2 separate regions of the Homo sapiens genome follow, and region 1 is linked to region 2. The links come from fine-mapping of genetic effects on gene expression. A gene starts in region 2. The other region holds a variant in brackets. All regions are shown on one strand. Distances are from middle to middle.

What was found. PIP is the estimated chance that this variant, and not a neighbour inherited with it, causes the effect.
Region 1: its variant is fine-mapped to the expression of SH3BP5L in whole blood (TOPMed, PIP above 0.99).

What each region holds. Positions count from the first base shown.
Region 1 is chr1:248,796,444-248,812,945 of GRCh38, reverse strand. LOC124904577 (a long non-coding RNA gene) reads left to right here and starts at 5,428. Exons shown (of 2, transcript XR_007067008.1): 1 at 5,428-5,897; 2 at 13,192-14,158. SH3BP5L (SH3 binding domain protein 5 like) reads left to right here. Exons shown (of 7, transcript NM_030645.3): 7 at 576-2,500. The coding sequence ends at 1,046. RefSeq lists a silencer at 537-586 and enhancers at 7,484-7,693, 9,102-10,301. The variant C/T (reference allele first, on the strand shown) is at 9,035.
Region 2 is chr1:248,817,071-248,833,572 of GRCh38, reverse strand. SH3BP5L (SH3 binding domain protein 5 like) reads left to right here and starts at 7,658. Exons shown (of 7, transcript NM_030645.3): 1 at 7,658-7,738; 2 at 8,207-8,820. The coding sequence starts at 8,638. MIR3124 (microRNA 3124) reads right to left here and starts at 7,196; the gene lies at 7,130-7,196. RefSeq lists enhancers at 6,967-7,066, 7,137-7,186, 6,762-7,312, 7,297-7,556, 7,313-7,864 and 2 more and a silencer at 14,389-14,683.

The DNA of each region.
Region 1 (16,502 bases), 21 kb after region 2:
TGCAGGCTGGAGGGGATGCTGGTCGGCCTCTCTGGGCCATCTTGGTGAGGTGGCCAGGGTGAGGCCTCCGGCTAGCGGTGGGGAAGGGTGGTGGCACACATGTTCCAAATGACCTTGCAGGAGTGAGAGGCAGGGATGGGGGCTGGTGATGGGGGCTGGTGACGGCGAGAACGTAGTTGGAAGAAGGGAGGTAAACAAGAGGAAAAGAACTGGTGGAAATCTGGGATGGGGAAGAAGAACCAGCCATTGGGTGAAAGGGAACAGTGGGGAGAGGATGAGGAAGCAGGAGCTGGTGGAGAGGAAGGCCTGAGAGGAAGGCTCTGGAAGGTGGGGCTCAGGTCAGGAGCAGGATTGCTGGGGAGGAACAACGCAGAGCAAGTGGAGCAGGGAAGGGTGTTGTGGGTCTGTGGTGGGTGCTGAGAGTGGAGCAGGGAAGGCTGTTGTGGGTCTGTGGTGGATGCTGAGCCAGCTGTCCAGGTATTCTGGGAGAGCAGGCCCTCAGACCTCAGTGCAGAGTGCTGAGGAAGGTGGAGACGTGCCCCATGGGTCGCCTTGCTCTGCTCTGCCCTCTGCAGGAGCACAAGGCCAAGGTGACAGAACTGGAGCAGCAGGTAGCTCAGGCCAAGACGCGCTACTCCGTGGCCCTTCGTAACCTGGAGCAGATCAGCGAGCAGATTCACGCACGGCGCCGCGGGGGTCTGCCTCCCCACCCCCTGGGCCCTCGGCGCTCCTCCCCCGTGGGGGCCGAGGCAGGACCCGAGGACATGGAGGACGGAGACAGCGGGATTGAGGGGGCCGAGGGTGCGGGGCTGGAGGAGGGCAGCAGCCTGGGGCCCGGCCCCGCCCCCGACACCGATACCCTGAGTCTGCTGAGCCTGCGCACGGTGGCTTCAGACCTGCAGAAGTGCGACTCCGTGGAGCACTTGCGAGGCCTCTCGGACCACGTCAGTCTGGACGGCCAAGAGCTGGGAACGCGGAGTGGAGGGCGCCGGGGCAGCGACGGCGGAGCCCGTGGGGGTCGGCACCAGCGCAGCGTCAGCCTGTAGCCGAGGGGCCAGGGTTCCTGGCTTGAATCTGCCACCACGGGCCGGTTGGGGCCCACAGTCTTCTCACGCCCTCTCCTCTGGGGCCTCGTCTTCCCGAAGGTCCCCTTCTCCAGTGCTTCCCTGGGAGAGGCCAGCTGTGTTCGAGTCCTCTGTGCCTGCCCTGGCGTTCTCACAGCCTCCCCCTTCCCCTCAGCAGGCGGCTCTCTTTGCCTTACCCATTCAGAAGGCTCGCCCTCGGCGCTCTGTCTGCCTCTGCCTGCCAGCTCATCACGATCTGCAGGGCATTGACCCTTTGCTTTCCCTTTCTGCTCCCTCTCTTTCCATCTGTTTGGCTTTTTCCCTCAGGGAACTTGGTCTAGAAGGCACTGGGAAGCTCATCAGAGAAAATGGGTGCTGGGCCTGAGTACTCCCGTCGGAGGGGATGGACAGTCACCCCTCCCGTTGGTTTCCAGCCCCGCCCCCCTTCCCAAGGCAACTCTGGAGGGTACCCTAGGTATGCTGCTGAGCCCTGCCCCCCGTCCTGCTCCAGCCTGCCCGTGTGTAACCTGTAAGATGTACTGTGTGCCTCCGGAAGACACCACCTTTCCCTTCAGCATTCCCTTTCATGACCTGAGGCACTCTGCGATGTGTGCCCCAAAGCAGAACTTACAGGGCCTGCAGGAAGCTGGTGTCAGGGAGAGAAACCCAACCCCACTGTCAACATAGGGAGCATCACCAACTCCAGACTGGCTCCTGTGGGTATGGTGTTTCCGCTGGGCTGGGTCCTCAACATTGCCAAGGTGCTAGTGGGTCCCTAAGAGGGCCCATGTTGGGGGTGAAGTCATGAGGTCCTGAAGGCTTAGGCCCCTGTCATTCCCACCCTCACTCTTGCTGCACAGTTGTGTTTACTTTTTCTGGGTAGAGGATGCTGAACTGACTCAGCACCCTCCTGCAGGACGGGGTTAGGGAATTTGGTGCTCAATTGCTCTCCCTTGCTCTTCCCCAAACTGAAAATACCTACTGCAGGATCCCTCGGGGCACACTGAAGCTTGGCTGCCAACCCTCTTACTTCCTTTGTTACAGGGAGGGGTTGGCTTGGGGTGAAAAGTTCTGCCCTCCGCAGGGAGCAGCTCCAGCTGCCTGGCAGTGCTCCCAGTTTGTAGGGAAGCCACACCAGATCTGGGTGCCTTGGGAGAACCAGTCCTTCCTTTTGACCCACCCCAGGAAGATGGAGTGCTCTTTTCTAGGCCCATGTTCTGCCAGCAACCGGGATGCGTGGGCAACTGGACTCTGCACGGGGGTCTACAGGTTGAGGGAGGTTGGTCACAATGAGAACCTCGGGGTTTGAGGTGGCCATGGGCAGACAGCCGAAAGGGAGGGAGGGTGTGGGTGTGCGTGTGTGCATGTGCTGGTGTGTAAGGGGGAAAGGGTCTTTCCTGGTTTTATTTAAATAAAGTAGTTTATGTAACAGTTAACATCTACTGTCCTTGCTGGAGGAAGAGAAAAGGGGCAAAGATGAGGCAAGGGTTGGGCAAGGGAAGAGCAGGGTTAGGCGGCAGGCTTTTTAGATGGTGTGGTCAGGGAAGGGAGGTGAAGGACCAGATTGAGTGAGCTGCGCTATGCATGCTCTTGCGGGGGTGGAAGGCCCCATGGCCAGGGTGGTCATGTACAGGGCAAGTGTAGAGAAGCAGGGGAGGAGTTGGTGCCTCATGGGGCCATGCTGTGTGAGGTGATGGGTGCCAGGAGAGGGTTTGGTAGAAAGGGGCCTGCGGGGTGGAGTGGGCTCTGTCTGAGCTAAGAGATGAGAGTGCCAGAGGGTTGGGATCTTAGATGTGTCTGGATGTGAGCATGAATGTAGAGAAGGGACACAAGTAGTGATGCCAGATTTATCAATACAGTGAACCCACTGAAATTTCAGATAGGCAGTATTTTTGTCTGCTGCAGTGTTTAGGATGTACTTACATTATGAATTATCCGTTGTTTCTCTGAAATTAAAACCTAGATAAAAGGTGACTTCCAAGTCAGGGCTTGACTGGCTGGGGGATGGGAGGGGTTTGAGGGCACTTGAACTCACAGGTGGGAGATTGGATAGGGATGTGAACTCCAGGAGCTTTGAAGAAGAGCAAAAGGCTTTGTTTAGCCTGAGCTGCACTTGGAGTGTACCAGTATTTGGAGTTTTGTTGAGAAGAGGTCAGCCAAGGGAAGAAGAAGGTGCTGGCAGGGAGGAAGACCAGAAACCTTGGGGTCAAGGGGCAGGGTGAAGGCCAAGAATTGGAGGCACGCAATCAGAGCAGTGACCCTGGTGGCTGTGGACGCCATCTGAGGGGCCATCTGGGGCCGCTATGTGCTGAGCACTCACTGTGCCTTTGGATGGGTGCTGTCCAGGAGTTTGAGATTGCCTTCCCTGACTTGGCAGATGGGTGTCATAATATTTTATTACTAGAAAAGCTGCTATGAAAATGCATAGCATATGTTTTTGGGTGAGTGGGCTTTTTAAATTTTTTAAATTGTATGTATAGGAGGTGAACAACATGGTATTTTGATGCACATAATGAAATAGGTATCAAATTGGCCTATCATTTTGCAGTTACCTCCCCCCTTTTTTGTTGTGAAACCGCCTAAAATCTACTCTCAGCAAATTTTCAGTCTATAATACAGTATTATAGTCCTAATGAAGGGCTTTCTGAGATGACACACAGTGCTGGACTTCCCTACCCAGTCACTGGCAGGCAGGACCTGTGAGGCTCCTGGTACAGAAGAGCCCTAGAAAAGAAGGGCTATGCCATGCACGTGCGTTTCTCCTTGCAAAATCACCTAGAAGATGCGGCAGGCGGGAAGAGAGACCAGGAAGGTTAGAGCCAATGGTACTTCTAAGGAGAAGAAGACAGAAGCCGAAGAGCTCCCTCCCTCCCACCCTCGTTGTAGTAACTTGTACTCATCCAGTGCATTTCACGTACCAGGAACGCCCCTAATTAATCTCTACAACAATGTTATAGGACAGATAAACACTATGATTTCCTTTCCACGGTAAGAAAATAAGGCACAATGGGGGGTACTCAGCCTTGCTGAAGGTAACGGAGGCGGCTCCCACTAGGCACTTGGACTCTAGAGTCCAAACGCTTGAACCACTGGGCTCACAGGAACAGGAGGTGAGGAAGTGGAGGTAGTCATCTCCGAGGAAGTTTTGCTGGGAAGAAGAGATGAGAAGTGGGAATACTGTTTCTTAGCTCCTTCTCCCAGCAAAGAGGGTCGAGAAATTTTGTTTAAGGTGAGGAAGAGATGGTCAAGGTGTGGGGGACATAGGGCCCCATCCCCCATTCCTGTACTGTGTCATGTTACATGTTACATTGGCCTGTTGGTAATGAATTGTTCTGATCTTCATCTTCCTCAAGTGTGGGGCTGGGGCCTCAGTCTACCCAACACCTGACACAGGCTCTCACCAACAGATGCTCAGGAAATGTGCTTTTGCTTCTTGCCCCTTCTCTTAGCCCACAGCTGTATCAGGTGGGTTTATCAGTACAGCAGTTTGGAGGTCAGGACCTGGTGATGCACAATCCCAGGATCACATCTCTATGGGAATTCTCAAATTTCATGACGCTTCAATTTTATCGCCTATAAAATGGGAGCATAGAGGCATGTGTGGCATGCTGCTACATCAGTGGATCTGAGGTGCAGCGATTCCTGTTAGCACCTCTTCACAGCCTCGGAGTGCTTAACTCACGGAGGCTTCATCCCATCTTGCGCTAGGCAAGTGGACTCTATGAAAGGGTTGTGTTTCCCTCCTCATCTGGATATGATTTTTGACAAGCATGACAACCCCACTGCCTTTTTAAAAATTTAATTTTTAATATTTATTTTATTATGAGACAGGGTTTTGCGCTGTTGCTCAGACTGGAGTGCAGTGGTGCAATCATAACTCACTGCGGCGTGGGACTCCTGGGCTCGAGCAATCTTTCTGTCTCAGCTTCCCTAGTAGCTACGACCACAGATGCACACCACCATACCCCGCTAATTTTTAACTTAATTTTTTTTTTCTCTGTAGAGATGTATTGCAGTGTTGCCCAAAATGGTTTTGAACTCTTGGACTTAAGCAGTCCTCCCTCCTTGACCTAAAGTGCTGGGATTACAGGCTTGAACCACTGCTCTTTGCCTTTTTTTTTGTTTGTTTTTGTGACACTCGTTCTAGCCCAGGCTGGAGTGCAGTGATGTGATCTTGGCTCACTGCAACCTCGACCTTCTCGGCTCAAGAGATCCTCCCACCTCAGCCTACCAAGTAGCTGGGACTACAGGTGTGTCCCACCATGCCCAGCTAATTTTTGGATTATTTTGGAGGCGGGGTTTCCCTGTGTTGCCCAGGGTGGTCTTAAACTCCTGGGCTCAAACGATCCCCCTACCTCGGCCTCCCAAATTGCTGGGATTACAGGCATGAGCCACCATGCCTGGTTATGCTTCCAGCCTTTAGACATCTTTTAAAATTGACATATTGTAATTGTACGTATTTGTGGGGTGTGGAATCAACCCATCTGTAGATGCTCCTACTCTGCCTGGCAGGAAGAGCGGAGATGACCTTCTTGGGCTGTCAAGGTCTTGCTGTGTCAGCAGGGGGCAGCAGCTACCAGAAAGTGCGCAGAGCCTGGGCTCTGCATTTCCCTGCGCGCACTGCGTGTTGACCCTCCAAGCCTGCGTGGTCAGCCTCATGGGCACTTTGCAGAAGGGCCTGAAAAACTGCACATAGAAGGGTGGGGGTGTGTATACATCAGAATGGAACCCTATTTGTACTTGTCATGGGCCTCTTGCATTCCCGTGTGTCCTCGGAATCACCTATTGCGTGTGAGAGCTGGCTCAAGTCTGCAGCGCAGCTGGTCTCAGGAGGTAAGATGTTCGATATGTAGATGTACCCTGTTCTCCTCAGAGCTCACCTCCTTCCTTGGCCTCCCTAGTGTCTTTTCCCTCTCCCTTTCCACAGCCTCTTTATAAATTTCTCCACCCACGCCTGCTCACCATTCCTGAGCCCCAGGCTGCAACACATTGCTCATGCCCTGGGATAAGGGAACCAGGAGACCATACACTGGCTGGCAAATGGATATGTGTAGTTTACTAAGAAATGTTCACCAGGATCTTTCAGTGTACAAACACTGTGGTAGGCCTTGTTAGGAACACTATAAACTGTAATGCCATGGGTGGGTCTTCCAGGTAAGGAATGCAGGTGTGCACAGGTGGTGCAGGGCAGTGAAAAATACATAACCAGGCCAGGAGCAATGGCTCACAGCTGTAATCCCAATGCTTTGGAAGGCCAAGGTGGGAGGCTCACTTGAGGACCAAGTTTGAGGCCAGCCTCAGCATCATAGTGAGAACCCGACTCTACAAAAAGTAAAAAAATTAGCAATGCGTGATGGCATGCACCTGTAGTCCTAGCTACTCCTGAGGCTAGTGGGAGGATCTCCTGAGCCCAGGAGTTTGAGGCTGCAGTGAGCTATGATCACACCACTATTTCAGAATGGGTGACAGAGGGACAACCTATTTCTAAAAATAAGTAAATAAATAACTAATGAGGGCTGCAGTCAAGGAAAAATCTGGGAGGTTACAGCTGGGCATTGCTCTCCGAAGCTCTGAACCAGCCCCTTGGTCTCAGACTGGAGAAGTGGTGCCTGGCTCCCAATCCTCACTCTTCCCAAATCTGTCTTGAGCTCCCAGGGCCTGTGTCTCACCCATCTTGGTGTTCTCAGGACCTGGAATGTGGAAATTTTCACCAAACAGCTGTCTACTGACTTACTTCTGCTTGTGCTACCCTTGGCACAAGTTTCCTCCCTTCTCAAACTGTCAAACTGCTGCCTGTGGTTTGAGGACCAGATCATGTGGTCAAAAGTCCACATGAGCTGGGATTCAACCACAGGCACCTCTCTAGCCCAGTCTGAATTAATCCTTATCACTCTCAAGTTCCCCATGGCTCTTTTGACTTACTGAAGAATGGGCCGGTTGTTGTAGACATGTCTCTTGTTGGTCCTAAGTCCTCAGAAGAAGGGGTCAGTATCATCCTTGACTCCATCTCACTCAACACATAACACAATAGACATATGTACAGGGACCATACGTGATGCATAGTCTAAATTGGGACAGCTGAGTGTGAAAGGGGGCAGGTGTGGCCTGGGACTGACTTGGGTGATCTAGGACATATGGTCACCCTCATTCTAGGTGCTCAGTAAACATTAGTTCTTTTGAGAGCTTCGGTGTTAAAAACACTGACCACACTATTCAGAGAGGGTTGCCCTTGGCCTGCCCCTGCCACAAGGGGTTATGTGCACAGGGACAATTCACTCAGCTCCTCTGGGCCTCAGTGTTCCAATCTGCCGGAAGTGTGGACAGACTCAGTAGATAACCTCTAAGGTTATCTAAAGCACTAAAATTATACAGCTGGCAGTGGAGGCTGGGCCATGCGAAGAGTTCTGATGGATGATGTGAAATGGTGCATGTGTTTGCAGACAGGGTTAGGGGTTGGAGCATGAGAAACCTGAGCAAGTCCAGAGTTGGTTAGGACCCAGCCCGGAGGGAGCAGAGGGCTGCTGGATATTTCTGCTTGGGTGTGAGATGATCATCGTCCAGAGGTCGAAGAGCTCAGAGTGCTGGGCAGTAGTTTCTCTTTCTCCAGGCAGGCAGGTGGCTTTCACTGCACAGTGCAGATACGCTTCTTGATTTATTCAAACATAGGAGGAAGGGAGTGTCAAAATGAGTTTCTTCCCCATTTAGAAAAGAGGAACCTTCTTGGTCTAGGGTAGAGTGGAGCAGCAGAGCTGCCTTCTTCCTCAGCTGCGGCTTCATCTTCCATGCTCCTTCCAGGCCACCCCATCCTGTTTCGTCTCTATGATTTCTGCAATAACATGCAGAAGAGCTGGATCATCTTCACACTGACACAAGGAAATCTCAGTTGTGCCACGGCCTGCTTTTTTCCAGCAGGAATTCTTAAGGGCCTGGGGGCCTGGGGCAGCAGTGAAGGCTGGAGGAGGCTCATGGAGCTGTACAGGTTCGCAGGGGCTGCTGTGGTTTAGGGAAGAAGGAGAGGATGTTGCTTAATGTCACCTGCCTTGTGTGCTAACCTCAGTGTTGCTATGGTTTCAGCCTCCCACTCCACTTGGAGAGAGAGGCCAGGAGCCCACCTGCCTCTGCAGCCCACCTGCCTCTGCAGCCCAGGGTGGGAATGTAACCGTTGCTGCTGTACTCACATCTGACCTTCCTTCAGCTGATCTTCGCCCCTTTTACCAGATCTCCTCTTTCACTTTACAATTTCAGAAGCCTCAGATTACAATCCTCTCCATTCCCTCAAACAGTTGCATCTGGCAATAGTGACCATGGCTGCCCCATTGGAAGGGACTGTTAACAGAAAAGGGCATGAGGCCTTAGGAGGAGGGGAGCTACGTCTTCATAACACTAACAAAAACAAACCCGAGGTTAAATAAAGTGAACCAGGTATTTAGTTCACCTGCCACCTGGGATATACTTTTTAATTTTTTCTGGGTTGGTTAAAAATATATTTAGGGCCGGGCACGGTGGCTCACGCCTGTAATCCCAGCACTTTGGGAGGCTGAGGCGGGCGGATTACCTGAGCTCAGGAGTTGGCAACCAGCCTGGGCAACATGGCGAAACCCCTTCTCCACTAAAATACAAGAAATTAGCCGGGCTTGGTGGCGTCCACCTGTAGCCCCAGCTACTCAGGAGGCTGAGGGAGGAGAATGGCGTGAACCTGGGAGGCGGAGCTTGCAGTGAGCTGAGATCGCGCCACTGCACTCCAGCCTGGGTGACAGAGTGAGACTCCGTCTCAAAAAAAAAAATGTATATACATACATATGTATATATATTTAACGACACTTTCAGAGAGAATGTGACAGAGATAAAAGCTGAATAAGAATGACAGGAAAACTGATCTGGAAGCATAAATGATGAGGATGAGAGAAAACATCTGCAGCTAGACAAACCCAAAAGACTTGGAGAAAGTGACAAAAGTGAAGCAGCAGAGA[C/T]GAGGAGAGACGTGAAAATACACGCTGGAGGGAGGGACATCAGAGACGAGAAGAGGAAAGCCTCATAGGTGACTGGGACATCAGAGATGAGAAGAGGAAAACCTCGTAGGTGACTGGGACATCAGAGATAAGAAGAGGAAGGCCTTGTAGGTGACCGGGACATCAGAGACAAGAAGAGGAAGGCCTCGTAGGTGACCAGGACATCAGAGACAAGAAGAGGAAAGCCTCGTAGGTGACCGGGACATCAGAGACGAGAAGAGGAAGGCCTCGTAGGTGACCAGGACATCAGAGACGAGAAGAGGAAAGCCTCGTAGGTGACCAGGACATCAGAGATGAGAAGAGGAAAGCCTCGTAGGTGACCGGGACATCAGAGACGAGAAGAGGAAGGCCTCGTAGGTGACTGGGACATCAGAGATGAGAAGAGGAAAGCCTCGTAGGTGACCGGGACATCAGAGACAAGAAGAGGAAAGCCTCGTAGGTGACCGGGACATCAGAGATAAGAAGAGGAAGGCCTCGTAGGTGACCGGGACATCAGAGATGAGAAGAGGAAAGCCTCGTAGGTGACTGGGACATCAGAGACAAGAAGAGGAAAGCATCGTAGGTGACCGGGACATCAGAGATAAGAAGAGGAAAGCCTCGTAGGTGACCGGGACATCAGAGATGAGAAGAGGAAAGCCTCGTAGGTGACCGGGACATCAGAGATGAGAAGAGGAAAGCCTCGTAGGTGACCGGGACATCAGAGATGAGAAGAGGAGAGCCTCGTAGGTGACCGGGACATCAGAGACAAGAAGAGGAAGGCCTCGTAGGTGACCGGGACATCAGAGATGAGAAGAGGAGAGCCTCGTAGGTGACCGGGACATCAGAGACAAGAAGAGGAAGGCCTCGTAGGTGACCGGGACATCAGAGATGAGAAGAGGAGAGCCTCGTAGGTGACCGGGACATCAGAGACAAGAAGAGGAAAGCATCGTAGGTGACCGGGACATCAGAGATGAGAAGAGGAAAGCCTCGTAGGTGACCGGGACATCAGAGATGAGAAGAGGAAAGCCTCGTAGGTGACCGGGACATCAGAGACAAGAAGAGGAATGCCTCGTAGGTGACCGGGCTGGTAGCACAAATGATACTCATACGTGCCAGGACTCTAGCTGAGCCCGAGTTAGATTTACAGCCCTCCTTATCTTGACCTATCTCCAAGTTCCTAGGTGAAGTGGCTGTTCCCAGTGCTGCCTGAATCCTTCAGCTGACTGCCGGCCAGAGGTTTATGGCTCTGATCAGGAAGATCACTGATGAGTCTTGTTTCAGACAGGTCCCACCCTCTGTTGGCTCCAACAGTGTTTGATATCCAACAATAGGAAACCAGATTCTGTGAGTGAACTCAAGCTATAGGCAGGACCCGTGGAAGGCACAGGGGAAAGGAGTTGTCTTCCCAGGAAATCTTGGATTTCCCCCTGGAAGTAGGTATCCTATGTACCAGGTGGGAGAGGACTGAGGAGAATGTGCCTTAGGACATGGCTGAGAGCCTCTCTACAGCTCTGCACCATTAATTCCGTGTGGATTTGTGTACCTGGAGCCCAGGGAAAACTAAAGCCCCTCTAATCAAAATGGTGTTTCTTTCTCGAGGTCCTGCTGGTTGTGAGAGATTTATGCTTCTGTGTGGGATATGTTCTTTCACCTATAAACATCAAAATCCCACAGTGAAATGGGAACAGAAAAATGTTTATTCCCCACCCAACCTTCATCTTAAACATGGTTCAATAGGAAGGTATCACTCAGAGACCCTGGCCCAGGGAGGATCCTTCTATGACTCTAGTTCCTAAAATGTGTTCTCTAGATCAACAATATAAACATCACCAGAAACTTGTTAGACATGCAAATTCTCAGCCCCCTACCTCCACTCCTCTGCCCACAGCAATACTGCATTAGAAATGCTGGGAGTGGACCCCAGCAGCTTTCAACAAACCCCTAGAGTGATTCTAGTGTACCCTGGAGTTTGAGAACCTCATCTTTCCGGCAGGTGGAAGGGATGTGGCAAACAGTGCACAGGGGTCCCAAGACTTGTCCCTTCACTCACCTTTCACTGGCCAAAGCAAGTCACCTGGCCTTGCTCCCCCATTGCCTTCTGCCATGATTGGATGCTTCCTGAGGCCTCCGCAGAAGCAGAAACCACTATGCTTCCTGTATAGCCTGCAGAACTACGAGCCAATTAAAACTCTTTTCTTTATAAATGACCCAGTCTCAGGTATTTCTTTATAGCAATGTGAGAACAGACTCTTGAAATATTTGCACACCCATATTGAAGCAGTATTATTCACAATAGTTAAGAGGTAAAAGCAACCCAAATGTCAATTGACAGATAAATGGACAAACAAAATACGTTATATACAATTGAATATTATTTAACGTTAAAAAGGAAGGAAATTCTGACATATGCTACAACATAGACTATCCTTGAGGACATTTTGCTAAGTGAAACAAGCCAGTCGCAAAAGAACAAATACTGTATGATTACACTTACATAAGGTATCTAGAATAGTCAAACTTACAAAAGCAGAAAGTAGAACAGTGGTAACTAGAGAATCTGGGGAGAGGAAAATGGGGTGTTGTTTAATGGGTAAAAATTTCCAGTTCTACAAGATAAAAACTTCTTTTGTAGATTGGTTGCATAGCAATGTAAATATTGTTAGCAAAACTGAATGGTAACTGGGTGCGGTGGTTCACGCCTGTAATCCCAGCACTTTGGGAGGCTGAGGCGGGCGGATCACGAGGTCAGGAGTTCGAGACCAGCCTGACCAACATGGTGAAACCCCGTCTCTACTAAAGATATAAAAATTAGCCAGGCATGGTGGCGCATGCCTGTAATCCCAGCTACTCAGGAGGCTGAGACAGGAGAATCGCTTGAACTTGGGAGGTGGAGGTTGCAGTGAGCCGAGATCATGCCACTTCACTACAGCTTGGATAACAGAGCAAGACCCTGTCTCAAAAACAAAAACAAACCAACCCAAAAAACAAAAAAAACCCAGAATGGTAAGCTTAAAAATGCTTAAGATGGTAAATTTTGTGTTATCCACTTTTTTTTTACCATAATAAAAATAGTATCTTGACAAAATTAATAGAAATCATACAAAGTATGTTTTCTGACCGTAGTGGGATTAAACCAGAAATCAATAACTGAAAGCTGGAAAATTACAGTATATTCGGAAATGAAACAAAAACTGTTCTAAATAAGGAATCAAGAAGTGTAAAGAAAAGTTTTTATATATTTAGGACAAATGAAAATGAAAATGCCACTTGTCAAAATGTGTGGGGTGCAGCAAGAGTGCATAGTGGGAAAGTTTTAGTAACATGTCTACATTAGAAAAGAAAATGAGCTAAAATCAATAACCCAGCGTTCCACCTTAGCACACTAGAGAAAGACAAACAAATTAAGCCTGAAGGAAGCAGAAGAAAAGGGATAATAAAAATTAGAGCAGAAATGAATGAATTTGAAGACAAGAAACAATAGAGAAAAATTAATAAAATCGAAAGCTGATTCTTTGAAAAGACTGGTAAAATTAATGATTCAGGCTAACCAAGAAAAACAGAGAGGAGACAAATTATCAATTTTATAAATGAAAGAATGTTAATCATCCCTTGGACATTAGAATGATAATAAAAAGATAATATGAATAAATCCATGCTCACAAATTGGATGATTTTGATGAAAGGACTGATTCCTTGAAAAATACAAATTGCCGAAATTCACAGAGAAGAAATAGATCAGCTGAACAGTTCTATATATTAAATAAATTAAATCATTAATTATTAACCTTCCAAAAAAGAAAACATCAGGTCCAGGTGGTTTCACTGGTAAATTATATCAAACATTGAAGGAATAACTGATACTAGTTTTCCACAATTTCTTCCATAACATAGAAGCAGTGGAACACTTCCTAGCACATTCTATGAGGCCCGCATTATCCTAGTCAAAATCAGATAAAGACACCAAAGAAAGGAAAACAATGGACCAGTATTTTTCATGAGCATAAATGTAAAAATTATCAACAAAATATTAGCAAATCAAAGCAAACAGTGTGTAAAAACATTTTATACCATGACCAAGTGGAATTTATTTCAGGTATGTAAGACTGATTTAACTTTCTTTCTTTCTTTTCTTGAGACAGAGTCTCGCTCTTGTTGCCCAGGCTGGAGTGCAATGGCACGATCTCGTCTCACCGCAACCTCTGCCTCCCAGGTTCAAGCAATTCTCCTGCCTCAGCCTCCCGAGTAGCTGGGATTACAGGCATGCACCACCAAGCCCGGCTAATTCTGTATTTTTAGTAGAGATGGGGTTTCTCCATGTTGAGGCTGGTCTTGAACTCCTGACCTCAGGTGATCTGCCCGCCTCAGCCTCCCAAAGTGCTGGGATTACAGGCGTGAGCCACCGCGCCCGGCTGACTGATTCAGGTTTCTAAACTGAGCAATATAATTTAGCACATCAGCAGACTAAAGAAGAAAAGCCATATGATTATATTGATTCAGAAAAAAAGTTTGACAAAATCAAACACCCATTTATGATAAAAATTCTCAGCAAATTATGAATTAGTAAAACTTCTTTAACATAGAATTGCTACAGAAAACATACAGCTAACTAACATCACACAGAATGATGAAAATGGCATGCTCTTCTGAGCTTGGAAACAAAGCAGGGTTGTCCTCTATTACCACTCCTATTCAACACTGTATTGGAAATCTTAGGTAGTGCAATAACACAAGAACGAGAAAAAAGTTACAGGTTAGAAAGGAAAAAATTAAACTCTATTTGCAGAAGATACAATTTTCTATGTAGAACATCTCAAAGAATTGACAAACAAAACAAACCAATTTATGGAAGTAAGTTAGCATTGCAAGGTCATGGGATACAAGACTAACATAAGAAGTCAATGACTAACTTGAGGAAGTTATGCTAAGTGAAATGTGCCAGTCACAAAAGACAAATATTGTATGATTCAACTTACATGAGATACCTAGAAGACAAATTCATAGAGGCAGAAAGTAGAATGATAGTTACCAGGGGAAAAAGGTGAAATGGGAAAGTCTTGTTTAGTGGGTATAAAATTTCAATTTCGCAAAATAAAAACGTTCTGTGGTTTGGTTGCGTGCTAAATGAGAATATACTTAACACCACTTACTGAACACTTAAGAATAGCTAAGATGGTAAATTTGGTGTAATGTGTATTTTACCATAATTAAAAATAATTTTTAAAATGGAATACAGATTTTCCCTGGCTTTTTTCAATGCAGTCCCAATCAAAATCCCAGAAGGTTATTGTAGATAGCAACAAACTAATTCTAAACTTTATATGAGAAGGCAGAAGATCTAGAGTAGCCAACACAATATTAAAGAAGAAGAACAAATTTGGAGGAACGACACTACCCAATTTCAAATCTTATTATACAGCTATAGTAATCAAGACAGCATATTATCAATTGAAGATAGTCACACAGATCAGTGAAACAGAATATAGAGAAGAGAAATAGATCCACATAAATATAGTCAACTGAACTTTGATGACAGGGCAAAGACAATTTAATGGAGAGAAGATAGCCGCCTTCAGTAAAAAGTGCTGGATAAATTGAACAACTGTATGCAAAAAAATGAACCTAGACAGAGACATTACACTTTATACAAAAGTTAGCTGAAAATAGACATACACATAAAATGCCAAACTATAAAGCTACTTGAAAAAAAATAGGAGAAAATCTGCATGACTTTGGGTTTGATGATGTGTTTTTCAATGGCACTATCCATGGAATAAAAAATTAACAAGTTGGACTTGCTAAAATTGAAAACCTCTGATCTGCTAAAGACATGGTTCAAAGGAAGGAAAGATAAACCACAAATTGTGAGAAAAATTTGAACAATAGACATCTGATAATATCAAAATATACAAAGAACTTGTATTTAAAATGTACAGAGAGTTCTTACAGCTCAACAAGAAAACAACCCAGTTCAAAAGTGGGCAAAAGATTTGAACAGACACCTTAAAAAAAGATATACAGATGGAAAATAAAAATATGAAACGGTGCTCAACATGATATGTCAGTAGGGGATTGGAAATTAAAACGGCAGTGAGATGCCGCTACACACTTATTAGAATATTCAAAATGCAAATAACTGATAATACTGACTGCTGGAAAGTTTGCAGAGCGAAATAAACTCACATTCACAGGTAGTGGGAATGTAAAATGGTACAACCACTTTGGGAGATAATTTGACACTTTCTTGCAAAACTAAACATAATCTTACCATGTAATCCAGCAATCACGTTCCTAAATTCTTACCCAACTGATTTGAAAATGTATGTCCACTCAAAAACCTGCATGCAAATATTTGTAACAGATTGATTCATAATCACCCACAACTGGGAGCAAGGAAGATGTCTTTTAATAGGTGAACGGATAACCAAACTGTGTTGCATCCATACAATGGAATAGCTTCTTATCAATAAAAAGAAATGAGATATCAAATTATGAAAATAAAAGAATCTTAAATGCATATTATGAAGTGAAAGAAGCCAGCCAGAAAAAAAACTGTATAATATATGCTTCCAATTATATGACATTCTGGGAAAGATAAAACTTAAAAGACCTTAAACACATTAGTAGATGCCAGAGGTTCTGGGGAAGGAAGTGAAGGTTAAATAGGTGAGGCACAGGAAAATTTATAGGGCAGTGAAACTTCTGTGTGATAATATAATGGTGAATACAAAACGTTAAGTATTTGTCAAATTCTATAGAGTTTTAGAGCACAAAGAATTACCTTAATGTATGTGAAATTTAAAAAATCATTTATGAGGTGGGGAGAATCACAAGAAGAAATGAACACTGTGACAAAGTAATCTAAACGTTTAATGAGGCAACCTCACTCAAGGGGCTGGAGGAGTAAGATGCTGACCTACCTAAGCTATTTTTTGTTTTGTTTTTTTGAGACAGGGTCTCATTCTGTTGCTCAGGTTGGAGTGCAGTGGTGCAATCTCAGCTTACTGCAGCCTCAACGTCCTGGGCTCAACAATTTTTTTATCTTTTTTTTTGATATGAAATCTTGCTTTGTCACCAGGCTGGAGTGCAGTGGCGCAATCTTGGCTCACTGCAACCTCCACCTCCCGGGTTCGAGCAATTCTCCTGCCTCAGCCTCCCAAGTATCTGGGATTATAGGCACACACCACCACGCCCAGCTACTTTTTGTATTTTTAGTAGAGACGGGGTTTCACCATGTTGGCCAGGTTGGTCTCGATCTCTTGACCTCGTGATTCGCCTGCCTTGGCTTCCCAAAGTGCTGAGATTACAGGCGTGAGCCAGCGTGCCCGGCCAGGCTCAACAAATTCTCCCACTTCAGCCTTTTGAGTGGCTGGGATTACAGGCATGTGCCACCATGTCTGGTTAATTTTTCTTGTATTTTTTTGTAGAGATGGGTTTTCACCAAGTGGCTGAA
Region 2 (16,502 bases):
GAGCTTAAAATCATAAAGCAGAACTTTCAGGGGGAAAATCAGTTTCAAAGTAAAATGCAAGGTAGGATAGAATCAGTTTTTATAATTGAAACCACTTTAAAGGTTAAGAACAGTAGTATAGGGGCTGGGCGTGGTGGCTCACGCCTGTAATCCCAGCACTTTGGGAGGCCGAGGCGGGCGGATCACAAGGTCAGGAGATCAAGACCATCCTGGCTAACACGGCGAAACCCCGTCTCTACTAAAAAATACAAAAAATTAGCCGGGCGTGGTGGTGGGCACCTGTAGTTCCAGCTACTTGGGAGGCTGAGGCAGGCAAATGGCATGAACCCGGGAGATGGAGCTTGCAGTGAGCCTAGATCGCGCCACTGCAGTCCAGCCTGGGCGACGGAGCGAGACTCCATCTCAAAAAATAAAAAATAAATAAAATAAAAAAGAACAGTAGTATAAATAATAATGGTATCACATGCAAACCTGTCGGATCTTTAGAAAGCATTTTGATTTTGGTTATTTTCACAAATTAGAGCATTTAAAATGTAAGTAGATACATTTAATATATGATGTGTTGCTATAAATTATTTTTAAAAATCTTAAATACTTTTGTCTGTGTTTAAAGACTGGTTCCACCACTTAGCAGCAGTATGACCTTGGACAAGTTATTTAATCTCCTTGTCTGTCAATTTCTTCAACTGTAAAATGAAGGTACAATTTACTGTAGTTGGTTTTTGTGAGGATCAAATGAATAAACCAGAACAGTGCCAGGTGCAAGGCATACACTGCATAAGTGTTTGCTGTTTTTATTATGACATGTGATGAGCAACTCGGGGAAGTAATTTACCTCTGGAAAACTCAGCAGATTTAACAAGGGTAAAAATAAAGATTTTTAGTAATACAGGTTTAGGGCAAGCGTGGGGGCTCACGTCCGTAATTCTAATGGTTTGGGAGGCTGAGGCAGGAGGACTGTTTGAGGCCAGGAGTTCACAACCAGCCTGAGCAACATAGCAAGACCCAATCTTTACAAAAACAAAAATCAAAACATTATCCAGGCATGGTGGTGAAGGCCTGTAGTCTTTGCTACTTGGGAGGCTGAGGCAAAAGGATTGCTTGCGCCCCGGAGTTTGAGGCTGCAGTGGGCTATTATCAGGCCACTGCACTCCAGCCTGGGTGACTGAACAGGACCCTGTCTCTAAAAAGTTAAATAAACAAATAAGCGTAATACAGGCTGTCCCTTCCATTAACATTTATTAGTAGATTTTACATTATATATTTCTGGGAGCAAGTTTTCAACTGGATTTTTAAAAAAGTTTTAGGGAGGTATAATTGATACACAAATTACACACTGAAATGTACAGTTTGAAAAGCTCTGACATATATATACCCGCATGAAAGCCTCACTACAATCAAGATGGAGAACATATCCACTACCCACAAGCTGCTTCATGCCACTTTGTAATCTCTACCACCTCCCCACCAGGCAACCACTGATCTGCTTTCTATTACTATATATTTGTCAACTAATATGTTTAATCAGCAATTAATGGTGGTATTTATTAAATATATAACTGATAGTAGAAAAAAGTTAAGAACTATAAAAAGGTAGCTTATGTTGGTAGACAAAAAAAACCTAAAAAAGGTAATTTTTAATGATGGAGGCAATTTAGGGTACTTATGTGAGAAAATTAGAAATAAAAGTTACAAGTAAAAATTTATGAAAAAATTATTTAACTAAGAAGTAAAGTTGATTTGTGATATTACATAGTAATTGACAGTGTTGCTAACATCTTTATATGGCTTTCATATTTTTACATTTCACTCATAAAGTCAGTCTATAGGGATTGGTTGGTTGTTTATTAGTGCCAGGAACTAGGAGGGATCCTTGTGGCAGGATCCATATGTGGCTATTTAAACCTGCTCAAGAGCTACACATGACTAGTAGCTACCATATTGGACAGTGCAAATATAGTAACTTCCATCATTGCTTAAGTGCTACTTTAAGCGCTGATTTAGAAGACTTCTGAGGTATGTGATCTATGATGGAAATGAGGAGAGTCTAAGCTGAAGCTATGGCAATGAGATGAACAGAAGGCATCTCTCTGAGATACTTAGTGTGATGAAAAGCAATGTGGGGGGTGCCTTCTAGGTTTTTCCGTAGGGTAAAGAGGTGGACTGTAGAACCGCTTACCAGCATTGAATGTCAGAAGAGCAGGATTTGGCAAAGGGGATGAAATCAGATTTGGATCCATGAGAGAGGGGCAACTCTGGGACAGGCCAGCGGTATCTCAAAGGCTGAAGGATCTCAGAATGTGATCTGCGGAAAGTCTGTGAAGACAGAGCTCTAAGGAAGGAACAGTAGCCATGGGTAAGGACTACAGCCATGCACTAGGGTAAGGACACTCAGGGAAAGTAGGCAGCATGAGATGGTCAGAAGCTAACATCAGGGCCTGGGGTACAGTAACATTTAGGACAGGGTTTTCAAACTGTGAATAGGTAATGAAATCAACAAGAGATCTCCACCAGCATTTAAAAATAGTATAAAAATATTAATGTGCTTTACATATAATTTGGGTAAAGATCTTTTCCTGTACCTTTTTTTTTTTTTTTTTTTTTTTAGTATTTATTGATCATTCTTGGGTGTTTCTCAGAGAGGGGGATTTGGCAGCGTCATAGGACAATAGTGGAGGGAAGGTCAGCAGATAAACATGTGAACAAAGGTCTCTGGTTTTCCTAGGCAGAGGGCCGCCTTCCGCAGTGTTTGTGTCCCTGGGTACTTGAGATTAGGGAGTGGTGATGACTCTTAAGGAGCCTGCTGCCTTCAAGCATCTGTTTAACAAAGCACATCTTGCACAGCCCTTAATCCATTTAACCCTTAGTGGCCACAGCACATGTTTCAGAGAGCACGGGGTTGGGGGTAAGATTAACAGCATCCCAAGGCAGAAGAATTTTTCCTAGTACAGAACAAAATGGAGTCTCCTATGTCTACTTCTTTCTACACAGAGACAATAACAATCTGATCTTTCTTTTCCCCACATTTCCCCCTTTTCTATTCGACAAAACCGCCATTGTCATCATGGCCCGTTCTCAATGAGCTGTTGGGTACACCTCCCAGATGGGGTGGCGGCCGGGCAGAGGGGCTCCTCACTTCCCAGACGGGGCGGCTGCCGGGCAGAGGGGCCCCCCACCTCCCAGACGGGGTGGCGGCTGGGCAGAGGGGCTCCTCACTTCCCAGACGGGGCGGCGGCCGGGCGGAGGGGCTCCTCACTTCTCAGACAGGGCATTCGGTCAGAGATGCTCCTCACACCCCAGACGGGGCGGTGGGGCAGAGGCGCTCCCCACATCCCAGACGATGGGCGGCCGGGCAGAGACGCTCCTCACTTCCTAGACGGGATGGCGGCCGGGCAGAGGCTGCAATCTTGGCACTTTGGGAGGCCAAGGCAGGCGGCTGGGAGGTGGAGGTTGTAGCCAGCCGAGATCACGCCACTGCACTCCAGCCTGGGCAACATTGAGCACTGAGTAAGCAACACTCCGTCTGCAATCCCGGCACCTCGGGAGGCCGAGGCTGGCGGATCACTCGCGGTCAGGAGCTGGAGACCAGCCGGGCCAACACGGCGAAACCCCGTCTCCACCAAAAAATACGAAAACCAGTCAGGCGTGGCGGCGCGCGCCTGCAATCGCAGGCACTCGGCAGGCTGAGGCAAGAGAATCAGGCAGGGAGGTTGCAGTGAGCCGAGATGGCAGCAGTACAGTCCAGCTTCGGCTCGGCATCAGAGGGAGAGCTCGGCATCAGAGGGAGACCGTGCAGGGGAGAGGGGAGAGGAGAGAGGGGAGAGGGGAGAGGGGAGAGGGGAGAGGGGAGAGGGGAGAGGTCCTGTACCTTTTTAATGAATATATTTACACACATATATGTATACTGGGTTGCAAGGTAAAACATATATCTGAGTTGTCTTCCAATTAGTTTGAATCTCACCAGTTTATAAAATGAGCACCATCGGCTGGGCGTGGTGGCTCACACTTGTAATCCCAGCACTTTAGGAGGCTGAGGCAGGTGGATCACTTGAGGTCAGGAGTTGGAGACCGGCCTCACCAACATGGTGAAACCCTGTCTATACTAAAAATACAAAAAAATTAGCTGGGCGTGGTGGCATGTGCCTGTAGTCTCAGCTGCTCAGGAGGCTAAGGCAGGAGAATCACTTGAACCTGGGAGGCGGAGGTTGCAGTGAACTGAGATCGTGCCATTGCACTCCAGCCTGGCGACAGCGTGAGACTCCATCTCAAATAAATAAGTAAAAATAAGTAAATAAATAAATAAACAAAAATAAAATAAAATGAGCACCATAGACTATCACCTACATGGGAAGTGAGATAGTGTCCTTTTTCTCATCATTGCCTGAAATTCTGGCACGTAATAGGCACTCCGTAAAGACATATTGCATAAAGGAATGAATCAACAAGCCAGAGAAGAGGAAACCCAGTACCAGGGTGACTCAGAAGCTAAATGATAAGAAAAAAGAGAGAAATAACCCAGTGTCAGATGTCAGTGATGTGGCAATATTGAGAGCATGGATGACCTTATCTTTGTAATTCCTATGAATTGGCAGCATCCGGAGCCAGACTGTAGGGGTGAATGGGAAGGGAGGAAGTGGAGAAAAGACAAATGATAGTGGAGACTGAGAGGCTGTTTGTTTTGTATTGAAGATGTGAAAGTTCAGTATGTATTCTGGAGAAATTATATAGAAAAGGCAGGTTCTAAAAACGTGCTGTCCAGGAAAGGAGAAACTAGCTACACAGAGCTATTTAAATTAAAATAAAAAATACAACTTCTTAATCACAGTAGCTCCATTTCAAGTTCTAAATGGCCACATGTGTCTACAGACTACCATACTGTGCAGAGCTGATTAACATTTCCTTCTTTGCAGAAAGGTCTTTCAGACAGTGCTGCTGTAGACAAAAGTTTTAATTCATCATGTTTGTGCTGGCTTCAATAAACAAGTTCAGGTTAAATCAATGCACAGCATCGCCCAATCTCTTCCTACCCAAAACATTATCCAAACCCAGCAGAAAAACTATTGTGGGATTATATCACAATCTATACATGATAGATTCACATGTGGTCTCAGTGGGTGAGAGTTAACCTTGGAAGAGGCCAGTGGAGACTTTAAAGGAGCTGCTAAATCTCAGGATGTGATCTAGGGGTCTGGCCATTATATGTATTCATAATGTTTTCCCACCAAAGATCTGTGACACGTAGCAGCAGTTTGTGATTGCTAAGCATTACACAGAGAAAAGGAGCTATGGGATGGGGTATAAGAATGACAGGTATTGGAGCAGTGCTGAATAAGAAAGGTTAGATAATTCAGGCTAGGGTAGACAGAACATCCTGGGTAAAATGAGGTTATTACAGTGAAATTCTAGTTCTACAAAAGTAAAGTGACTGGTAGACAACAAATAAATCATGTTTATCACCTTATATTTAATTTTTATGGTTTTTGTATGGCACCTTAATAATAAAAAGGACTGTGGTAGAAGACTGAGGCATTATTATCCATCAAAGCTGTCCACTTAGACAATGTTACTCAAGGTCCTGCTGACTTATTGAAATTAGAAAAATCACTTTTGTAATTTTAAAAACAAAACCTCCAATTTAATGGAAAAATCTGTTTTCAATCACCTCTTTTAAAGGAATATATTTTGCTCTGCTCAATTTAAAAAAATCGTTATTCATGGGATGAAGGGATAGAAGAAATGGACTGAGAACTGTAGAACTCTTGGCACATGACTCCATCCAAACCTCTGAGTTACTAAGAGACAAACTTTAGCATGCCTTCTAGCAGTGTCAGATCATGTCCCTAGGAGAACCCCAGCTCCCCCATGAAAATGCCTGCCTGAGAAAGCTCAATGCTACCAGGAGAATTTACTATTTGTTCTAGCCAACACCTGATGATAGGCTCCTGACCTCCCTTTCTCAGGGCGTTTATTAAGGGCTTACCATTATGAATCCTTCCTTCTTCTCTTTAAGGTGTTTATGCGTCTGCTACAACTCAAGAGGTCCTTCTAAAGGACCTGAGAGCCATTCCTTTGAAATTGATCGTCAAGAAGGGCAGAGCCTCTACCTCCCAATCTCAGTGCAAGAATAGCAAGCTAGGCTGGGCGTGGTGGCTCACGCCTCTAATCCTAGCACTTTGGGATGCCCAGGCGGGTGGATCACCTGAGGTCAGGAGTTCGAGACCAGCCTGGCCAACGTGGCGAAACCCCGTCTCTACTAAAAATAGAAAAATTAGCCAGATGTGTTGGCATGCACCTGTAATCCCAGCTACTCGGGAGGCTGAGGCAGGAGAATCTCTTGTACTCGGGGGTGGGGGTGGGGCGGAGGTTGCAGTGAGCCAAGATCGCGCCATTGCACTCCAGCCTGGGCAACAAGAGTTAAACTCCGTCTCAAAATAAATAAATACATAAAAAAGCACTCTAACTTCTATAGCTGCTAGCTAGCAGACACATCTGGCCGAATCGCATCTATGCCAATCAAATCTGTAATTTTTCACTTCTCCAACACTATTGAGCCCTGATCACCTTCCTTCCTTCATTCTCCCTTTGAAATGCCCAGTCACTTCTGTACAAATCGGAACAGAGGTCAGTTCTTTTCCTTTCTGTAAGTAGTTACTGAAAAAAGTCTTTTTCACTGCTTCAATGTCTAGCTGGGTTGTCTTTGACAGGATCCAAAAAGGAGGGGAATTCAGCCCATTTGCCTTTTCCATCTGCAGGGCAAAGTTTTGAGTTGACTCTGAGGAAGTTACGCCTTTTGTAAAAACAAAACATCCAACCCTGAATGAAGCCCTTCCCCTTAGGCCTAGGCCCTCCCCTCACCAAGCGACACCTAGAGGTGACAAGCAGGCGCTCGCTCAGGGACCTAGGTAACGATACACAATGCCATGTAACAAACTCCTGCTCATCGAGGGCATCTGACCCTGGGTGCACGAGTGAATTAACTGAGTTAATGTTGACTAAGTTCCTGGTTAGTATTCACGGAGCAATTGGTGACCCCACCAAAACGTCGTTCAAGGTGCAAGGTCCAGAGGCCTCGAGGAGTGGGATTTACACATCGGAGCCGTCCGCTCAGACGCCGTTAGTGGAGGGTTCCGCCGACTTCACGGGAGTGAGGAAAGTCACTTTTGGAAATCGACTTTGCCTTCGCCCGCGAAGCCCGCCAGCGTCCGGACTCGAGTTGCCCCCGGAGCCACTGCCGGAAGTTTACCAGCTCACTTTCGGCGTCGCGCCCGCCTCCGTGGAGCAGGCCGGAAGTGGCTTTCCGGCAGCCGCCGCCGCAGCTCCGTAAAGCAAGATGGCACTACTCACTCTGAGGCTATTATCTCCGTTTTATATCTAGTATTCCTCTTCTCACCAGTTACTCTCGATTTCCGTCCCGCGCCCTAATTTTCTTCAGCACCACATTCTCATGTTTTTCTTTCATTCAGCCTTGGTGGAGTATGGTCTGGAGGCAACCTACGGCTAGCCTGAGCAACGTGGGGCACCATTTTGTACGGAAACTGAAGGCAGGGCGGGGGAGTGTGAGGCCTCCCGAGGAGGCCCGGCTTGAGAGAGAGCGTGGGAGGGAGAGCGTTGTTCACCGATGATGTATTTCCGCTTCTGGTCTGCCTGGTCGTTTTTGGTTGGATCGGCTTGTTGCGGGGAGGGAGGGGGGGAGATTGTTTGCAGCATAGAAGCTCCGCGGACGGGAAGGTAAACTGAGGTAAGGCTGTGCGGGGGGCTTTTGCGCATGGCTGGGTAGAATGGACGGGAGTAGGGTCCTTGGGATTGCGGAAGAGTGTGGAATTGGAGACGGGAGGCTTAGATGTCTCGGGTTGGACAGAGAAGGTGGGGTGGGGCTCGGGGTTACAAGGTGAATCGCAAAGCCGGGCTGGGGTGGAGTGGGACGAGCGGGAGACCACAGGAGATGGAGGAGAGCCTAGGGGTGCAGAGGAAAGTCTCGAAGGCGCTGGTTGAGGAGGGCCTGGGTCGAGAGGAGCTGGGACGGGGGAAGAGTAGAATCTAAAGTCCTTGAGGGCTAAGGAGAGAAGTTGAGGTAGGGACTGGTCGGAATACATGGGTGGGGGCGTGGTGAGAGTGTAGTTTTTGGGAGGCTGTAGAGTTGGAAGGGGCTGGTGGCTGCGGTTTTGATGCTGACATGACCATATACTTGGCCTTTGTTTCTCTGCAGCTCCCCAGAGACGCTCATCCTACAGCCTCAGCTCGGGCCCAGCCTTCTCTCTCCAGCTGCCACCACAGCCTGGAGGCGCCTGCCTCCACCCTCCCGAATGGTGCTCCTCCTAGCAGGCCTCGGTCCAGGATCCAAGCCCCCTTTGCCCCCTGCCTTGGAGCTGTTGCTCCGGGTTTGTCACAGTGGACTCCCTGTGGCGGGAAGGGAAGAACTTTTGCACAGACAAGGCTTCAGCTCTAGGAACCCCACTGACAACTTGAATCTCAACCTCTAACCTAGTGTGAGGTTCTTCCTGTGCCCACCTTTTCTGCCTTTTGAGAAGAGAAACTCTTCTCCTGGCCATCTAGAGCCCAGGAAGCCCCAAGCTGGGGCCCTGGTCCCAGCATGTCAGTCCTCTCTTGTGCATAGGGCTCTGCCCTCCCCCTGTCAGCATGGCTGAGCTCAGACAGGTTCCAGGAGGGCGGGAGACCCCACAGGGGGAGCTGCGGCCTGAAGTTGTAGAGGATGAAGTCCCTAGGAGCCCAGTCGCAGAAGAGCCTGGAGGAGGTGGAAGCAGCAGCAGTGAGGCCAAATTGTCCCCAAGAGAGGAGGAAGAACTGGATCCTAGAATACAGGTGAGAGCACTGAGAGCAGGGAGAGAAGGAGAGCCCAGATTCCAGCCTCCCTGAAGAGTGTTGGATGAATGAGGGCTTAGACTTACTCTGTCCCCAGTCTGCTGGGGCAGGAAAGGAGAACAAGTTTGTCAACAAATCATTGCAGGGTAATGTAACAAGTTCCAAAAGAGTTGTGTGTCTGAAGTGCTGATGGAGTGCAGAGAAAGGCCTGGCCTTAGTGCTTGGGAGGCATTGCTGAAAGCTTCACTGAAGGAGCAAAGTGTCACTTGGCAGTAGATGGAGGAGGCACACTTTAGGTCAGTGGAGGGTAGGTGTGTTGTACTTCTTTCCAGATAAGCAGAGGGGCTGCCACCTTAGTTAGGGATGCTGTGTGAGAGGAGATGACTTTGATACTGGGGGACAGTTTTGAGGCTGAGTGAGAGAATCTTTTCCCCTTTCTCACCTTCTCAGCGGTACCTTCCAGGGATGTGCGGCCCACATTGCTCTGATAATGTGTTTCACCCTTGTAAACAGTGAGACCTTTCCAGTGTTATAAAGGTAGCATCAACTTTAGATCTATAAAGAAACCCCATATGTTCAAGGATTTGTAACTTTTGTTGTGGCCAATCCTTAGTAACATACATACCTGGCCCTCAGGATAGTGGGTCTCCTAAAGGAATGGAAGAGCAGTTTATTGCCTTGGAGTGTCTACAATCTAGTTGGTAGGACAGGCAGATCTTTGTGTAGGAGACCTGGGGGTAGTCAGTGAGGAAGACCAACTCCATGTGGAAGAGATGCCTGGCCAATCAAAGCTGGGTTGCAGTGTTTCAGGGAATTGGCTGAGAATGACTTCCTGAGGAAGCTTCTTGGGCAGGTGACGACCAGGATGCTCCTGCATGTTTGGGGCTTGAGTCTGCCATTTGTTCCGGTCACATCTCCAAGACTCTGATGTTGTGGAAGTGACTCTTCTGTAGGTGAGCAAGAACATATGAAGGCTCAAATTCCTAGGCTTATCTGTCAGCAAACCTTTATTGGATTACTCCAGTGAGTTGGGAAGAAATCAAAGCCAGTCCTGGCATTCTTCCTTCACTCTCTGTGTGGGTTCCTGGGATATGTGTGTGTGTGTGGGTTCCTCTTCTACTGTGTCCATGCTTATAATGGAGCAGTGGTGAGCCATTTGTTTCTGGCATGAGTCAGTAATTTATTTCTGCTCTGCCTGACATTGCATTGAAAACAGCCAATTTTTCTTGCTATTTCTACAGATTTATCATCCTCTGAGGAAATCAGTTGTAGTGAAAAAAGTCTTGGGCTGAGTTTCACGCTACCTCCAACCCCATGATTTATGATTTTTATGGAAGTTTCTTTACGTTTCTGAGCCTCAGTTTCTTCATCTGTAAAGTGAGCAGTTGGTCTAGCTGATTTGCACAACTCATTCTTGCTCTGCTCTGACACAAGTCTACAGTTCTTTCTCAAACTCTTTTTGCTTGTTCCTTGGTGATAGTTTGTAGATAGCACTTTGGGAAAGAGCTGTCTCTCTGTTGCTTGTGGAGGAGGGCTGTGTAATGTGCATTATATGCCTCCCTACAGCCTTCCTTGCCCTGCTCCAGAGAAGGCTTCTGCAGAGGAGAATCCACTGTGGTCTCTTTACTTGGCCTCTACTACTCCTATGTATTTTTCCAGTGTCTGCATAGGCACATGGTAGTAGTAGGAAGAGTCATGCTTGCATTGTGCTGTCTAATAGGGTGGACTAGCTGCATGTGGCTATTTAAACACAATCAATTAAAATTAACATGTAAAAATGCAGTTCCTCGGCCAGGCATGGTGGCTCACACCTGTAATCCCAGCATGTTGGGAGGCCGAGGCAGGTGGATCACCTGAGGTCAGGAGTTTGAGACCAGCCTGGCCAACATGGTGAAAACCCGTCTCTACTAAAAATAAAAAAAGCTAGCCAGGTGTTGTGGCGGGTGCCTGTAATCCCAGCTACTTGGGGGGTTGAGGCAGGAGAATTGCTTGAACCCAGGAGGCGGAGGTTGCAGTGAGCTGAGATCTGCCACTGCACTCTAGCCTGGGTGACAAGAGCGAAACTCCGTCTCAGAAAAAAAAAAAAAAGCAGTTCCTCAATGTTATACTGACAGTGCATAAATAGAATATTCTGTCATCACTGACTCTTCTATCAGATGAGCTCTATGAGAGTTGGAGTACACTGAGGTAGCGTAAGACTTACTTTGCCTCCAGTGAACTTGTGATGTCGCTGGTGCAGGAAAGGTAAAGCAGACCCTCGTCTCTCTTGCTAAACTGCACAACACGTTGTGGAATGTTGTGGGTTGTATAGGGAGGAAAGGTCTAGTAATAGCTTCCCTCATTTGATGACACAGGTGTGGGTACGCCAGTGCTCTGACCTCAGCAGGGAGTCAGTGTCTTCTTGCTGTGTGAGAGAGGCAGCCTGGCTTGAGGGGCACCCTTCACGGAGGAGGCCGGTGGCATTTTGCCCTTCTGTGCTTGGGCTTTCAAGATGAGGAGGAGATTGGGGTGTTTGTCTTTCGAGGTCCCTTTGAGTGTTGACAGTTCACTAGACCATGCACATTGCTCTGATCATGTGTTTCAGTGCTTTAGGTGGGTGTTCATTTCTCTGGATTCTCAGTGCATTTACTGGGTTTCCATCCACCGTCCATAAAAAGCCACCAGGGAGCTTCAAAAATACCCTTACCTGAGCCTTTCCAGACATGTGGATTCTCTTAGTCTGGGTGGGGTGAGAAGGGATTCTGATGTTACAGTCAGAGCCAAATCCACTGGGCCAGGTATATCCCAAAGGTAGAGCGCCTGTTTCGGTATTTTCTGAGGCTCCCGGAAATGGCTGTCCTTCGGATGAGGCCCTGTCTGACCTGGGGCTGGGGCTCCTTTGCAGGCAGGCAGCTCCATGGCCATTTATGGTGGGATTCCTCTGGAAGTTAGAAGGAAGTCAGCTGGTGCCTACCTGGAGCGTGCTGTCCCTCCAGGGAAGGCTGCTGGCTGTGTCTCCTTGTCATGATCTTAGTGGAGTTCTTTTGAGTCCTCCAGGCTCATCCTCAGCTTTCCGAGAGGGTTCCAGTGGAGGGAAGAGGAAAGGAGCGTGGATCTAGGATGGACCTGGGTCTGTTCTGTGACTTTCTCAGCCCCCTCTTAGTGGTTGCATTCTTTCCTCAGATGTGAGTGCTCTCGTTTACCTGCTCCTTTCCAAACTCTCTAGGGTGACTTTGCAACCTCTGTGACCTCATCTAGAAGTATGGGTTTAGCTTTCACAGGACAGTCATCACCCTGGCCCCAGTTACCATTAGTTTGAGTCTTTTGATGGTCTGCACTAGGTGGGGTGGGAGCATCTGCAGCCTGAGTCCCCATGCCTTTGATTCAGTGTCCTGGCATCCTGGGAATCTGACTGCTGTGCCCTGGGAAGGTCACCCTCCCTGCTGGCTGCTGGCTCACTGATGGATGATGCACGTTGATTCAGACTTTGTCCTCCCCAAATTCCGTTTCAGCTGAGTGCCAGGAGTCCCTGGTGAAGCAGGCCAAATGGAATGTGTTGCTGACTGCCCAAAACTGTCCCAGGTCCTCAGTGGATTCCTGCTCAGCCTTTCCCTGGGTGTCGCCTAGGTGGGCTATCCCCCTCCCTCCTGTGGTGACCTTGCCCTCCAGGCTGCTTTGCTCCCCAGGCATCTTCTTGTCCTGTTAGGGAGAGCTTTGTGACTCTGAGGGGACAGATCCCATCAGCAGATGGCTTTCTGTAAATTGCTGGAGGTGCCACTGGGAAGCTAGTTCCCATATAGAAAGATAATGCCCACTCCTGCCACTTGCCAATAGCAACAGCTCTTCTTGTCCTTTTAACAGTAGTAACAACTTATGCTGAGCCATCCAATCCATTGATGATCTTGTCAGGAGCTGGAAGTTGATGACTGGAAGCATTTGAGGCCATGGAATCCAGTGGGGATCCCGTCTTGGACTTTGATTTGCCACATGAACATTGCAGGGTGGCCTTTACCAACTGACCCCCCACAATCAATGTTTGTTGCATTTCCAATCCCTGTCCTTTTCCTACGTGGGCTGTGGTTTTCCTAGATTACAGCACTTCTTTCTTTACTGAGATGTCCTTCCAGTGGTGTCCTCATTCCCAGGAGGGTGGTCACAGTGGAAGGAAAGTGAGATCAAAGGTCGGTCCTGGATCCAGACCCAAGTCTGTCACTAATTTTCCGCCTGGTTGTTTCTCATCTATCAAATGCAAAGTTGCTGAGAAAGAATATTCCAGCAGGAGGTGCTGAAAGAACTGGTCACTCGTCTCCCAGATAGCCTAAAAGCCCCTGTAGGCCTCGTCAAGCCCCAGGAAGCTGGGCCCCCAGGGAGGTAGGTTGCCTTTCAGCTTGACAGACATTGCCTTTTTAGGGCCTGTTGGGGTGATCGTGTCAGTTGCTGGTGATGTCTCTGTTCGGAAGGCACTGTGAAACTTGGAGTTCCATGTGTCTGGTAGTGTTGATGCTGACCCTATGCCTCCTCTGGGGCCCTGAGCTGTGTTGGCTGCCTGTTCTTCCAGAATGGTTGTTATTTTATGGACACTGGGTTGTGGGACACTGTAGATGCATCTACCCAAATACAACAACTTCTAGACCTTCGCCACCCAACACAGGAGCCACATGCCACTGTCTAGGTTGAGATGTGTCACAAGAGTCAAGTGCATACGGATTGTGAAGACTTAGTTTAAAAAAGTAAAAGTATGGATAATAATATTATTTTATGTTGATCACATGTTGAAATATATTTTGTATATATTGGGTTAAATGTATTTTTATAATTTCACTCTTTTTTTAAATTTTTTTACTTTTAAAAAATGTGGCTTCTAGAATTAAAAATTCCATGTGCAGCTCCTGTTACGTTTCTGTTGAATAAGTCTCTTCGAGAAAATTTAGAGCAAGCTTTTCCAACCCGTGGCCTGTGGGCCGCATGCAGCCCAGGATGGCTTTGAACACGGCCCAATGCAAATTTGTAAACTTTTCTTAAAACATTATGAGATTTTTTTTTGTGATTTTTTTTTTTTTTTTTTTTTTTTGAGACTGAGTCTTGCTCCTTCACCCAGGCTGGAGTGCAGTGGCACAATCTCAGACCACTGCAACTTCCGCCTCCCAGATTCAGGTGATTCTCCTGCCTCAGCCGTCCCAGTAGCTGGGACTACAGGTGTGTGCCACCATACCCAGCTATTTTTTTGTATTTTAGTAGAGATGGGCTTTGCATCATGTTGCCCAGGCTGTTCTCAAACTCCTGAGCTCAGGCAATCTTCCCACCTCGGCCTCCTGAAGTGCTAGGATTACAGGTGTGAGCCACTGCGCCTGCCCACGATTTTTTTTTTTTTTTTTAAGCTCATCAGCTGTAGTTAGTGTTAGTGTATTTTATGTGTGGCCCAGGACAGTTCTTCTTCCAGTGTGTCCCAGGGAAGCAAAAAGATTGGACATCCCTAGTTTAGAGCCAGATTTGTGGCCCTCCTTAGGCAGGGTCTACACTGTTGTAGGTAGGTGTGTGCATTTTCATATCCTCATTCCTCGTTCCATTACAGGTTTCTACCTTTGTGTTCTTCCTGTTACTGTAATTAACATGTCAAACCATTTCCTGTATTCTTACCTGCTGACCCAGATCTTTTCAGGATCAAGGCAGGGGATGGGGGGAGGATAGAAGAGGTAGAAGGGACTAAAAGGAAGATTGTGCATGTCAGCCTGACTCCCTCACTGGGTTGCTGAAAGGCCCGAATGAGGTGAGTGGGGGCCAACATCACGGCCATATGAGTGGGAAGTGATTGTGGTGTCACTGCCAAGTGCAAGTCATGGGTCTGGGCAGCAGGCACATGCTGGGCTGGGTCTCTCTGGCCTGTCCAGCCTCCTGTCCAGAGACAGCAGGGGCTGGTGAAGGCAAATCCTATAGCTAGGCACCAGGTATTTCCTGGCACAAGGCCCTTGGCACAGACCAGCACTGCTCCTCAGTAGTGTCCTTAGCTCACCAGGGGCTCTGGGAACTTTTGTGTTTTCTCGGGCAAGGGAGGATGACTTGAGGCCAGTACCCCTCTCAGCTCTCTTCCATTTCATGGAAAGCCCTGGATGGTTCTATTGCTTCTCTCTCCAGTCCTTCCAGGGGCCAGGAAGGCACTCAAACCAGCTTGTCCAGCAACTTTTCCCCAGGACTCTCCCTCCCTCCCACAGGATCTGCTCTATAGGGACCTGCGGTCATGGTCACCCATTGCCCAAGCAGGCCAAAAGGCTTCTTGGACTCTATACACTTTCCTGATCTTGACCTTAGTCATCCACCAAGCCCCTGTGATTCTGTGTCCTGCGTTGCCTTGGGATCTGCCCTCTCCTCTGCCACCTGGAATACTATAGACAGCCTCCACCTTTTTTTTTTTGTTTGTTTTTTGTTTTTGTGATGGAGTCTCACTGTGTCGCCTAGGCTGGAGTGCAGTGGCACGATCTGGGCTTACTGCAATCCCTGCCCCCCGGGTTCAAGCCATTTTCGTGCCTCGGCCTCCCAAGTAGCTGGGATTATAGATGTGTGCCACCACGCCCAGCTAATTTTTGTGTTTTTGCTAGAGACAGGGCTTCACCATGTTGGCCAGGCCGGTCTTGAACTCCTGGCCTCAAGTGATCTGCCCACCTCTGCCTCCCAAAGTGCTGGGATTACAGGTGTGAGCCACCATGCCTGTCCCAGCCTCCACTTTTGTCTCCCTGGCTCCCCCAGGCTTTCGTTACATTGGCACCAGGCTCTGAGAGACCCTTTTGCCATTGCAGAAAGTCCTGGTACTACCTCCCATAGTGCTGTAGCCTTACTGACCTTCTCACCTGCCAACTTGTCTGCCCAGGGTACCTGCTCCCCTTTGGTTCCTTGGCCCTTTGTTCTTCACTGGCACTTTATTTTTTTGAGACAGAGTCTCGCTATGTTGCCCAGGCTGGAGTGCAGTAGTGTGATCTTGGCTCACTGCAGCCTCTGCCTCCCAGGTTCAAGTGATTCTCCTGCCTCAGCCTCCCAAGTAGCTGGGACTATAGGTGCACGCTGCCACACCCGGCTAATTTTTGTATTTCTAGTAGAGACAGGGTTTCACCATGTTGCCCAGGCTGGTCTCAAACTCCTGACCTCAGGTGATCTGCCTGCCTCGGCCTCCCAAAGTGCTGGGATTACAGGCGTGAGCCACCTTGCCTAGTCATTCACTGGCACTTTTGTGTCTATGAAGTCCTTCCAGCTGCTGAGCAAGTGTTCCAGGCATCCTACCCTGACCTTCTGCTGCCCAATTAGGTGACCTTGCTACCCAGAGAGCACCCACACCCACCCCTCACAAGGCTGCACATACTGCCCAGGACCTGCTGCTGACTTGCTGGGTTTCCTTACAGGCTGCCACCTCTATGTCCTGAATTCTCAGGTCTCACGGTCCTGAGAGGTGATAAGTGTGCAGTAAACATGTGCTGACTGAGTGGCCCTGCCCTGGCCCAGGTGGCCATCCTCTCGCAGAGAGCGAGCCTTCAGGTCCAAGGAGACTCCCTCAGTTTGAGGAAGTGTTGCAATCTCACGGAGAGAGTGAGGGCTCACCACAACTTCACGTTGTGCATATTAGTGTTGCATTCTCCAAACCTCAATTTCTTCATCCTTGAAACTGGGGTTTTACTACCCAATACAAGGTAGAGTTGTGAGGATTACGTGAGATTGTA